3 linked regions of the Homo sapiens genome follow. The protein of the gene in region 2 interacts with the protein of the main gene of each other region in a biochemical or structural test. Each region holds a gene or a part of one and is shown on either strand. Other genes may lie near its edges. The genes, in order: ESR1, SARNP and DAPK1.

Region 1 (3,654 bases), on a different chromosome or scaffold from region 2:
ATCCCAACTCTAGACCACACTCAGGGTCTCTGGGAAACAGAGACAAAGCATAAAACAGCTGGGACATTTGGAACTCAGATGAACTGATGGACAACACAGAACATGTGTCAAAAAAATAACAATTCAAATTTTTACGTCATTGCCACATAACCCTGGATATCAGTTTTTATAACTTGAATAATGTAATTTGAAAATACTGTTCTTCAATATTCAAAACTCCTCTTTAGGAACATGTAGAGACTGAGCATGGTGGTTCATGCCTGGAATCCCAGCACTTTGGGAGGCCAAAGCAGGAGAATTGTTTAAGCCCTGTAGTTTGAGCCCAGCCTGCACAATATAGCAAGACTCCATCTCTATAAAAATGCTTCTTAAAAAAATTAGCTGAGAATGGTGATGTGTGACTGTAGTCCTAGCTACTTGTAAGGCTGAGGTGGGAGAATCACTTGAGCCTAGGATGTCGAGGCTGCAGTAGGCTATGATTGATCATGACAACTCCAGACTGCGTGAAAATCAGAGGAACACAGAAAAAAAAAATGTAGAAAGAGAGACAATCAGAGGAACACAGAAAGGAAACTGAAAATGAACAGTAAGAAAATTCTAGGAAAACCAAGAAAATAAGGAAGTAAAATGCTTTAAGAAAGTAGAAAGCTAAAAAAAAATGTAGGAAGAGAAGAGGAACACAGAAAGGAAGCTGAAAATGAACAGTAAGGAGATTCTAGGAAAACCAAGAAAATAAGGAAGTAAAATGCTTTAAGTAGAAAGGTTTATGGAGAGGATGATCAAGAATGGCAAATGGGGCAGAGAAGTCCAACAAAGCAAAGACTGGTTAAGTGAATTCAGACCTGACAAAGCAGACTCTTAGCAAGGAGTTTCCTTAGACAGGTACAGGCACAAGCCAAAATTCAGCAGATGGAATGTAAGGAGATGAAAATGAGGGAAGGCATTCCTTTGAGAACTTGGAGGAGAATAGGAAAAGATACAGATAGGGTGGCAGCTGAAGAATATAAGACCCAAGAAAATGAATTTTTTAGAATGAAGAGACTTGAGAAGGCCTCGTGTAGACTGAAGGGCATGGGCCAGGAGAAAGGGAATGTTTGAAAGCACAAAGAGGAAGATAAAAGAATAAAGCCAAGAAGGAAACTAGAGGAGTTGGGATTAAAAACACAGGTAAAAGAAATTGCCTCAATGAAGACAACTTGAAGAAGACTGGAAGGAAGGAGGTAAGGAAAGTAGAGGAAGATGAGTTTGCATCTCTCGCCAGACCAGACATAGGAGTAGATGTTATATTGGCCCAGGACTTGGCAGGCATGTGCAATCAAATAAAGGTGGAATAAGAGCCCAGCACAGTACCTGGCATGTAGTTGGCACTCCATAATATATTTAAATGAATGGAGAGAGTGTTCAAAGTTGTATAAGAAAGAAAGGTAGGCAGACATTGAAAGTATAGATGGAGTGAAGGTTCCTGTGAACATTTTTTAAAAAATGAAAATCCTAAGATGAGCTAAAGTCAATTGATGATAGCCCTTCCAGCAGGGTCTCTTGGCAAAGGAAGCTCAAGCTTCCTGCTTCCAGTCCCCACCCAAATACCCGAACCACACTGACTTTCACTGGCGCTCCCCTTCACAAGCCCTGTCTTTCCTTTTAGCCCAAATTGTATAACCTCTCCCTGCCTTCTCAGTCATTATTATGGTTCACAATTTTGTGGTAGTGGTTCTCAAACTACATTTGCCATAATATTCACAAAATATTGGCTCCTTGGGTTGAGTACGTCTGACTTTGCCAATTTCGTCCATTCTAAATAACTTAGTTCTGAGGTTGGCAGCCTCAAATAGGAATTCTTTATTTTTTAATGTTCATTAGAGAGCACTGGCTCACAGTTTTCAATTCTAGTTCATATTCTGTTACCCATCTCTTTCCATTTCACCACCATGCTGTTGAACCCACCCCCATCAACCTCAAATCTTTTTATTGCTTGTTTACTAATATCCTATGCATGATTCAAGTCAGTAGGAAGCAGCTATGAATATCTAACTGTAGAAGCTTAGTGCCTTTGGAGGTGGGAGTAGATATTTAGCAAGCATGAAATTGATAGATTCAATGTCTTATAAGCCTTATTAATTGTTATATCTAGCTCAGTGCCCAGCACATAGCAAGCATTCAATACATGTTTGTTGAATGAATGAAGGAATAAGTGAGTGAACAGTATACGCATGGCCAGAAGTTCCAATGTGTCAAGTATCTTCCCACCCACGCCTACATAATAAAATGCTATATTTTTTAAATTGTGGTAAGATATATATAACACAAAATTTACCATCGTAACCACGCTTAAGTGTTCATCAATTCAATCATGTTAGATATACTCACATCATCGTGCAACCAGTCTTCAGAACATTTTCATTTCACAAAACTGAAACTCCATACCCATTCAACAATAATTCCCCATTTTCTCCTTCCCCTATCCCCTAGCAGCCACCAATCTACTTTTGTTCTCTGTGAATGTGGCAATTCTAGATACCTCATTAAGTGAAACCCTACTTTTGCTTTTTGTGTCTAGCATATTTCACTTAGGATAATGTCCTGAAGGTCCATGATGTGACTAATATGCCATTGTCTGTATATACTACACAGACTTTGTTTACCCATTCATCCATCTATAGACATCTGGATTGCTTCTACTTTTTGGCTATTATGAATAATGTTGCTATAACTATGAGTATACAAATATTTCTTCAAGACCCAGATTTTTAATTCTTTTAGATATATACCCAGAAGTAGAATTACTGGATCATATGATAATTCTATTTTGATTTTTTGAGGAATCACCAGTGTTTTCCACAGTGGCTGCACCATTTTACATTCTCATGAACAAGGCACAAGGTTTCTATTTGCTCTATATCCTCTCCAACACTTACTCTCTTCTTTTTCTAATATAGTAGCCATCCTAATGAGTGCGAGGGGAATACTGCATTTTTATGTCTTTTGCCTGAATGCCTCCCTTACCAGCCACTCCTAATCCCCATAAACTTGAATCAACATCCCTGTTCTGAACTCTCTAGAAGATTTTTTTATTTCTCTTCTGCTACTTACTATATTAATCTTCAATTGATTAATTCTCATTTCCATTACTATCTGCAAAGTTCTTGGTGTCTTATTCATCTTTAAAATGCCATGTGCTTAGAGCATAGTGCCTCACTTGGAATAGGGACTCAACAACATTGATATCAAATGACTGAATCAATAAATGTATAGTTTCCACAATATAGATAGAATATGTAAATACTATTTTTATAAATATTGACAAAAGATTTAATAGCGAGAGCCCATTTTCCTCAGAAATAGCAAAGATGTATGCTGTCAGCAAAATGCCATTCATCTACATTTTATCTCTAAGATGACCCCCAGCTTACTGAAAATCAACTGCAGACTTTGGGCATAGAAATAGAAGGCATCTAAAGAAGACGGGGAAACTACATGGGCTATATTCACTAACCATAAAGGAACTTTTTTAGCCAACTTAGAAATCCATGTAAATAACATTGTCAATTATCATTTTGGCCCAGACTTACTCCATAAAGACTGTCAAAATGTTATTTAAAAAAAAACAAAGAATATAAACTAAAAGGCAAGAGCGGTCTTCCTCTGGGCTCCAAG
Region 2 (3,654 bases):
GCCGGGCGCGGTGGCGGGCGCCTGTAGTCCCAGCTCCTCAGGAGGCTGAGGCAGGAGAACGGCGTGAACCCGGGAGGCGGAGCTTGCAGTGAGCCGAGATCGTGCCACTGTACTTCCACCGGGGTGACAGAGCGAGACTTTGTCTCAAAAAAAAAAAAAAAAAAATTTTTTTTAAGAATCTTGATCTTTCTCACACTGATACATTATTTTCTTCCCACTTCCTGGAGAACAAGTCTTTTGATCTTAATTACACTTTAAATTTTTTGTTTGTTATAAAAGTATTATGTTCACTGTAGAATAGTTAGAAAATTCTGAAAAGTTTAGAGGAAAATAAAAGTCGTATGTAATCCCAGCACTTACAGATCACTTAACATTTACATATATCATTTGTAGTGAGGCGTGAGCCACTGTGCCCAGCCTACACACAGCTTTTACATAGTTGTATTACTTCTTTTGTTATATAGTGAGTTCTTCTCATATACTAGGACGTTATTTTAAAAGGAAAATAGACATTATTTTAAAAGGAAAATAGAGGCTGGGCATGGTGGCTCATGCCTGTAGTCCCTGCAAGTTGGAAGGCTGAGGCAGGAGGACAGCTTTGAGCCCCGGAGTTCAAGAACAGCCTGGGCAACAGAGTGAGACCCTGTTCCTACAATTTTTTTTTTTTTGAGATGGAGTTTCACTCTTGCTGCCCAGGCTGGAGTGCAATGGCGTGATCTTGGCTCACCGCAACCTCCACCTCCCGAGTTCAAGCAATTCTGCCTCAGCCTCCCGAGTAGCTGGGATTACACACACGCGCCACCATGCCTGGCTAATTTAGTGTTTTCCCATGTTGGTCAGGCTAGTCTCGAACTCTCGACCTCAGGTGATCCACCCGCCTCGGCCTCCCAAAGTGCTGGGATTACAGACATGAGCCACCACGCCCAGCCAAATTTTTTTTTTAATTAGTCACACAAGGTAGCACACGCCTGTGGTCCCAGCTACTAGGGAAGCTGAGGTGGGAGGAACGCTTGAACCTGGGAGGTCAAGGCTGCTATGAACTGTGATCACACCACTGTACTCCAGCCTGGGCAACACAGCAATACCTGGCCTCAAAAGAATGAATGAATGAGAAACAGATGAATAAAAACATAAAACAGCTGAAAATGATGTAATTTCTTTTTGCACGTATTTCAGCACAATTACATTAGCAGAACTAAAACCTTTTAAAACTTAAAATAGGAACTAACATAAAATCTTATCCCATTTTTCTAAATTGATTTGATTTGATTTGAAATGTTTTGGCTCCAACACTTTGGGAGGCTAGAGGTGGGCAGATCACTTGAGTCCAGGAGTTCGAGACCAGCCTGGACAATATGTTGAAATCCCATCTCTACTAAAAATACAAAAACAGCCAGGCATGGTGGCATGTGCCTGTAGTCCCAGCTACTTGAGGGGCTAAAGCTGGAGGATGGCCTGAGTCCAGGAAGTCGAGGCTGCAGTGAGCCGAGATCATGCCACTGCACTCCAGCCTGGGTAACAAAGGGAGACCCTATCTCAAAACAAACAAAAAATATTTTAACAAGTATACTGAATGAATTGTATGGTACGTGAATTGTATCTCAGTAAGGCTATTGAAAAAAAAAAATTAGCCGAGCATAGTCGCATGTGCCTACAGTCCCAGCTACTCAGGTGGCTGAGATGGAAAGATCACTTGGGTCTGGGAGGCTGAGGCTGCAATGAGCCATGATCATGCCACTGCACTCCAGCCTGGGCAACACAGTAAGACCCTGTCCCAAGAAGAAAATAAACAAAAAAAACCAGCTAGGTAGGCACAGTGATTCACATCTGTCATCCTAGTACTTTGGGAGGTCGACGCAGGAGGATCACTTGAGCCTAGGAGTTCAAGACCAGCCTGGGCAACACAGTGAGACCCTGTCTCTCAAAAAACAAAAAACTAGCCAGGCACACTTGTAGTCCTAGCTACTCGGGAGGCTAAGGCAGGGGCATCACTTGAGTCCAGGAGGTTGAGGCTGCAGTAAGCCATGATCACACCACTGCACTCCAGCCTGGGCGACAGAAGGGAGACCCTGTCTCAAAAAACAAAAAAAAAAAAGAAAAGAGTTATAGAACATTCTATAAGGATACTAACATTAATGTAAAAAATAATACACACACATCTCTGTATAATGTGTATAAACAAGATGCCTGGAGAAGAAACAGGTAAGTTAACACTGGTTGAATCTGAGAAGAGGAAGCTAGTTTGGGAAAAGTGTAGGAAAGAAACTTTTTACCATATACTCTTTTGTGAACTTGTGCATGATTACCTATTCAAAAAGTTTTTTAAATCTTATTTTTCAGTATCAATAAAGCATTCTCCATTCTACCTATCCAACCCACAGAGAAAAGACATATCAACTTACCCTCATCATACATTTGACATTAATCATGCATTGCCCTGTGATTTCTATTTATTTTTATTTTGACTCAGGGTTTTGCTCTGTTGCCCAGACTGGAATGCAGCAGTGCAATCGCAGCTCACTGCAGCCTCGACCTCCTGGGTTCAAATGATCCTCCTGCCTCAGCCTCCTGTATAGCTGGGACCACAGGTGTGTGCCACCACAGCCAGCTAATTTTTTTATTTCCAGTAGAGATGAGGTCTCACTATGTTGCCCAGGCTGTTCTTAAACTCCTGGGCTCAAGTGATCCTCCTGCCTCAGCCTCCCAAAGTGTTGGTTAGGATTATAGGCGTGAGCCACTGTGCCCAGCTTGCCCTGTGATTTCTTCTAGTTAACTGACCTTGAATTTTTTTTTTTTTTTTTTGAGACTCAGTTTCACTCTTGTCACTCAGGCTGGAGTACAGTGGCACAATCTCGGCTCACTGCAACCTCCGTCTCTCCAGTTCAAGCGATTCTCCTGCTTCAGCCTCTCCAGTAGCTGGAATTACAGGCGTGCACCACCATGCCCAGCTAATTTTGTATTTTTTAGAAGAGATGGGATTTCACCATGTTGGTCAGGCTGGTCTTGAACTCCTGACCTCAGGTGATCTTCCCGCCTCGGCCTCTCAAAGGGCTGGGATTACAGGCATGAGCTACCACACCCGGCCAAATTTTGATTAAAATATTTTATCAGAAATCTTTTTCACGTTGGCCAGGCGCGGTGGCTCACGCCTGTAATCCCAACACTTTGGGAGTCCGAGGCGGGCGGATCACCTGAGGTCAGGAGTTCAAGACCAGCCTGGCCAACATGGTGAAACTCTGTCTCTACTAAAAATACAAAAATTAGCCAGACGTGGTGGCAGGCACCTGTAATCCCAGCTACTCGGGAGGCTGAGGCAGGAGAAGGGCTTGAGCCCGGGAGGCAGAGGTTGCAGTGAGCCAAGCCAAGACCACGCCACTGCACTCCAGCCTGGGTGACAGAGCGAGACTCCATCCCAAAAAAAAAAAAAGAAATCATCTTTTTCATGTTATGTCAACATATAGTTTGTAAATTCTTTGAAGGCAGAGATGTTTTAGACCACCTATAACATATATGATGGGAACTCAAAATCCTTACAAGGAACCTAAGTGGTTGGTATTACAATTAGGCTTAAAGAAATTCAATAACTTGCTTAAATATCACACAGCTTGGCCAGGTGTGGTGGCTCATGCCTGTAATCCCAGCACTTTGGGAGGC
Region 3 (3,654 bases), on a different chromosome or scaffold from region 2:
ATGGTGGAGAAACACGAAGGCACTGCCCCCGTTCCTGGGACAGGCATATGATGCCATTAGAACAGGGTTTCCAAACCGCGCCCTGGTGCTCAATGTCACAGAACCAGAGCAAAGCCTCCCATTCTCAATCATTTCTGCTGGGCATTGCTTGCTAGAGTTTTTTAATGTGCATCTTTAATTATGATTACTCTGTGTATCTGTGCACCAGAGTTCTCTGTCTTTGTATCTCCAGACATTGCCTCCACAAGGACACCTCACTGCCTTTTCTCAACTGTTTTCCCACCCAGGAGATCTGTGTGGAGCTGATGACTCCACGCTGATACAAAGAAGCCATCCTGAAGGCTGCCAGGAGTAGCAGATTAAGTTCCTGGTGCCCAGGGGGAGTGAAGAGAGACCCAGTCACCCAGGGCAGTGGGCACTGCACTCCCAAACTAACAGACTCTGGAAATAAAAGCAAAACACGACAAGACAAAATGACAGCTCCTAAGGTGAGCCGAGAACTGCAGTTCAGAGCGTCACTTGAGGCTGTGTTTGTCACACGTGTGGAAATGTTGTAGGTTAGCTGGACCATTTCCACACTGCTTCCCCAGGCTCACACCACTTCCAAGAGCTGGAATTTGGGACAGGCTGAGTCCCTGGCACCTCTCACGGCCCCCTGCCTGGGCTCCCAGGGGCTCACCTCGCCTGTGCTGTGGAGCTGCTGAGCAATGCGCCTGAGGTCCTCCTCGCTGGCCAGGGGGTTCAGCTGGTCCTGCACGTCGTACACAAACTGCTGCAGCGACATCAGCTGGTTGGGTCCATTGAGCTTCCTCCAGGAAGGCAGCGTGGAGATGATTTTCTCACACAGGTGAGTCATGGGAGGACAGACCTAGAGGGGGCAGGGCCAGACAGGTTAACTCACCTGCAGCTGTGGGTGCCCTGAGCAGAGCCACAGTGGAAAGGACACCTTTCATTCAGGCGCCTTGCAGGTGATTTGATGAACGAGTGGGTTTTTTTGTTGTTGTTGACGTTTTTTTTTCTTTTTTTAGACTGGGTCTCGCTATTGCCCAGGCTGGTCTCAAACCCTTGGGCTCAAGTAATCCTCTTGTCTCAGTCTCCTGAGTAGCTCCGACTACAAGTACACACCACTGTGTCTGGCTAGTTTGTGTTTTTTGGGTTGAGTACTGGGGCAGTTGTCTTTTAGACTTGCTTTTAAGCCTCATCTATTGCTCAAATATAAAGTTTTATAAAGGCTCTTTAGTTCATGTTAAATAGATTTTGAGTCTTCTAGGAACGTTTTTGGAATTGTGGACTCAGTCACTCAATCAACTAATGTTCACCAACTCCTAATGTTTCACTCCCTCACTTTTTCCTCCCTCCCTCCTTTCTTCCCTCGCTCTCTCTCTCGTGACTGTTTCACTCAGGCAATGATCACTTTATGAACAGAGGAAAAGAGAATGAGTATCATCATCAATATTAGAGTGAGTGTTTACCAGTAAATTAGGCATTCGTGGGGACTGTTGTTGAAATATTGTTTCCAATTAGACCCATTCTTGGTATGTAGGCTGAAGTGGATTTTTAACCTTTTAACTTGGTTAATTAGATCAGCATATGTTACAGACTCACGTAATCCACATACCTCTGAATTAGAAACCACATAAGCCACAGGCTACACCGTGCCATTAATTCCGCACTCCCCTCTCAAATTCTTTTGTGTCAGCTAAATTCCACTCTGCATTCAAAAACAAAATTCTCAGGGGTGAGTGCAGTTGATGTGGTGGGCTCCACCTGCCTGAGCTCAGGAGTTTAGGGGTTGGGCGGGGGGTGTCTGAGAAGCAGCAGATCATGCCAGAGCCCAGCTCAAAAATCTCCAGGGACACTCCCTCCTGCCTCAGGAATGCAGCCTCAATCCAGACCTGGTGGGGAAGCACAGGGGCCCTCAGAGACCACTGTTAGTTCCCAGATCACCGCCCCTGGTTTCTGTGACAGATTCCTCCCAGGCCTCACCGGACTACCCCCTATCTTCTGATGATGCCACAGTGGGACCCCAACGAGGATATCTGGTGTGAAGGGCAGGGTTTTCTGGAGACAGGAAAGGGTTTCCCGAGAATTCTGGAAGCACATCTAGAACCAGAATCTGGTGCGGGAAGCACAGCATTTTCTTATTAGCAAAGCAGTTAAAAAAAAAAAAAAAAAATACACCCAGAGGCAGCTTCAAAGGTAAGAGAGGGAGACAGGCATCTGCCCGCATTTGTCCTCAGGCCTCGGCAGCAGGAAGACTCCAGAGTGAATGCCACCACTTCTCCACTGGGACGCTCGCCCTTTTCTTACCAATTCCGGAGAGCTTTTTGAACATTACGGTGTGACCATTTATCTGTCCAAAGCATTGAGAATGCTTTTTCCCAGCCTATTTCACCTTTCAACTTTGTTTACTTAATTTGTTTGCTAGAAAAAAATTTTAAAAATTTTTACATTTTCAAACAGGTATATTTTCTTTTAAAATTTCTAGGGTTTTAGATCTTGGTTTAACAGGTTCCCTCAGTCCCTAGTTATTTTGAAAATACACTCTCCACAATTTCTATTCAAGGTATTTATTGTTTCATGTTTTTACTTAAAAGCTTTAATCCATTTATTTTTGGACTTTGTAGGGTGTAGGAATCCAACTTTATTTCCTTCCAGACAAATAGCCAGTTGTGCCAGGTTCATTTATTAAATAATCTTTACCCCATTAAATTCAAATGACATATTTATTTTCCATTATATTTCTAAAGATATTATGATTTACTTCTATACCCTCTAAGCTTTTCCTCCTATTTAACTGTATTGATTATCAGGGGCTTTATAATAGGTTTAATGAATTTTTCCATGGAAATTTTAAGATAAAAATCCCAATCCCCTCAACCCATTCAGATGCTAACTGAAATTGTATTACATTTATATAACTAGGGAAAAATAAAATAGTCATATCTTGCAACCCAAGAATACAGTCTCATTCCCTTTGTTCATTTATTCTTTTCTGTCTTTCAAAAAAGTTTGTGACTGTTTTTCTACTTTTCTGAATTTTCTAAATATTCCACAATAAGTCACTTTTGAATTTTTTGGTTTTTTCCCAAAATTGGCCAGGCATGGTGGCTCACACCTGTAATCTCAGCACTTTGGGAGGCTGAGGTGGGAGGAGCACCTGAGCCTAGGAGTTCGAGACCAGCCTGGGCAACATAGTAAGACCCTGTCTCTACCAAAAAATCAAAAAAATTAGCCAGACATGGTGGTGCGTGCCTATAGTCCTAGCTACTTGGGAGGCTGAGATGGACAGATTGCTTGAGCCCTGGAGTTCAAGGTTACGGTGAGCTATGATCACACCACTGTACTCCAGCCTGGATGACAGTGTGAGATCCTGTCTCTGAAAAAATAAAATAAATAAATAAAATATTGTTAAAGAAACCAATAAATCGGTAAGAATTTCATAAAATTGAAGTGGTCCACCTTGCCCATAATAACCCTTCAGCTCCCATCATCTCCTTGTTTCTCTATTCTTCCTTTCTTTTCCCAGGGCACTAGGATAAAGACATGTCCAGGCAGACACCTCTTACTGGGTCCTACTATGAAGCAGTTCCCTGAAACCAGAGGCAAACCAGGAAGGAAGTACAAAGGGGTCCAGGCTCTTTCCATGGTGTA

What was found.
Region 1: the proteins of SARNP (region 2) and ESR1 form a complex in vitro, tested with the Homo sapiens proteins (one large-scale study listed by BioGRID).
Region 3: the proteins of SARNP (region 2) and DAPK1 form a complex in vitro, tested with the Homo sapiens proteins (one large-scale study listed by BioGRID and IntAct).

The regions. Positions count from the first base shown.
Region 1 is NC_000006.12:151,838,603-151,842,256, reverse strand, and holds part of ESR1 (estrogen receptor), read right to left. Parts: intron 1-3,654.
Region 2 is NC_000012.12:55,807,668-55,811,321, forward strand, and holds part of SARNP (SAP domain-containing ribonucleoprotein), read right to left. Parts: intron 1-3,654. UniProt on the Homo sapiens protein: Binds both single-stranded and double-stranded DNA with higher affinity for the single-stranded form. Specifically binds to scaffold/matrix attachment region DNA. Also binds single-stranded RNA. Enhances RNA unwinding activity of DDX39A.
Region 3 is NC_000009.12:87,700,243-87,703,896, reverse strand, and holds part of DAPK1 (death-associated protein kinase 1), read right to left. Parts: intron 869-3,654; coding exon 680-868; intron 1-679. UniProt on the Homo sapiens protein: Calcium/calmodulin-dependent serine/threonine kinase involved in multiple cellular signaling pathways that trigger cell survival, apoptosis, and autophagy.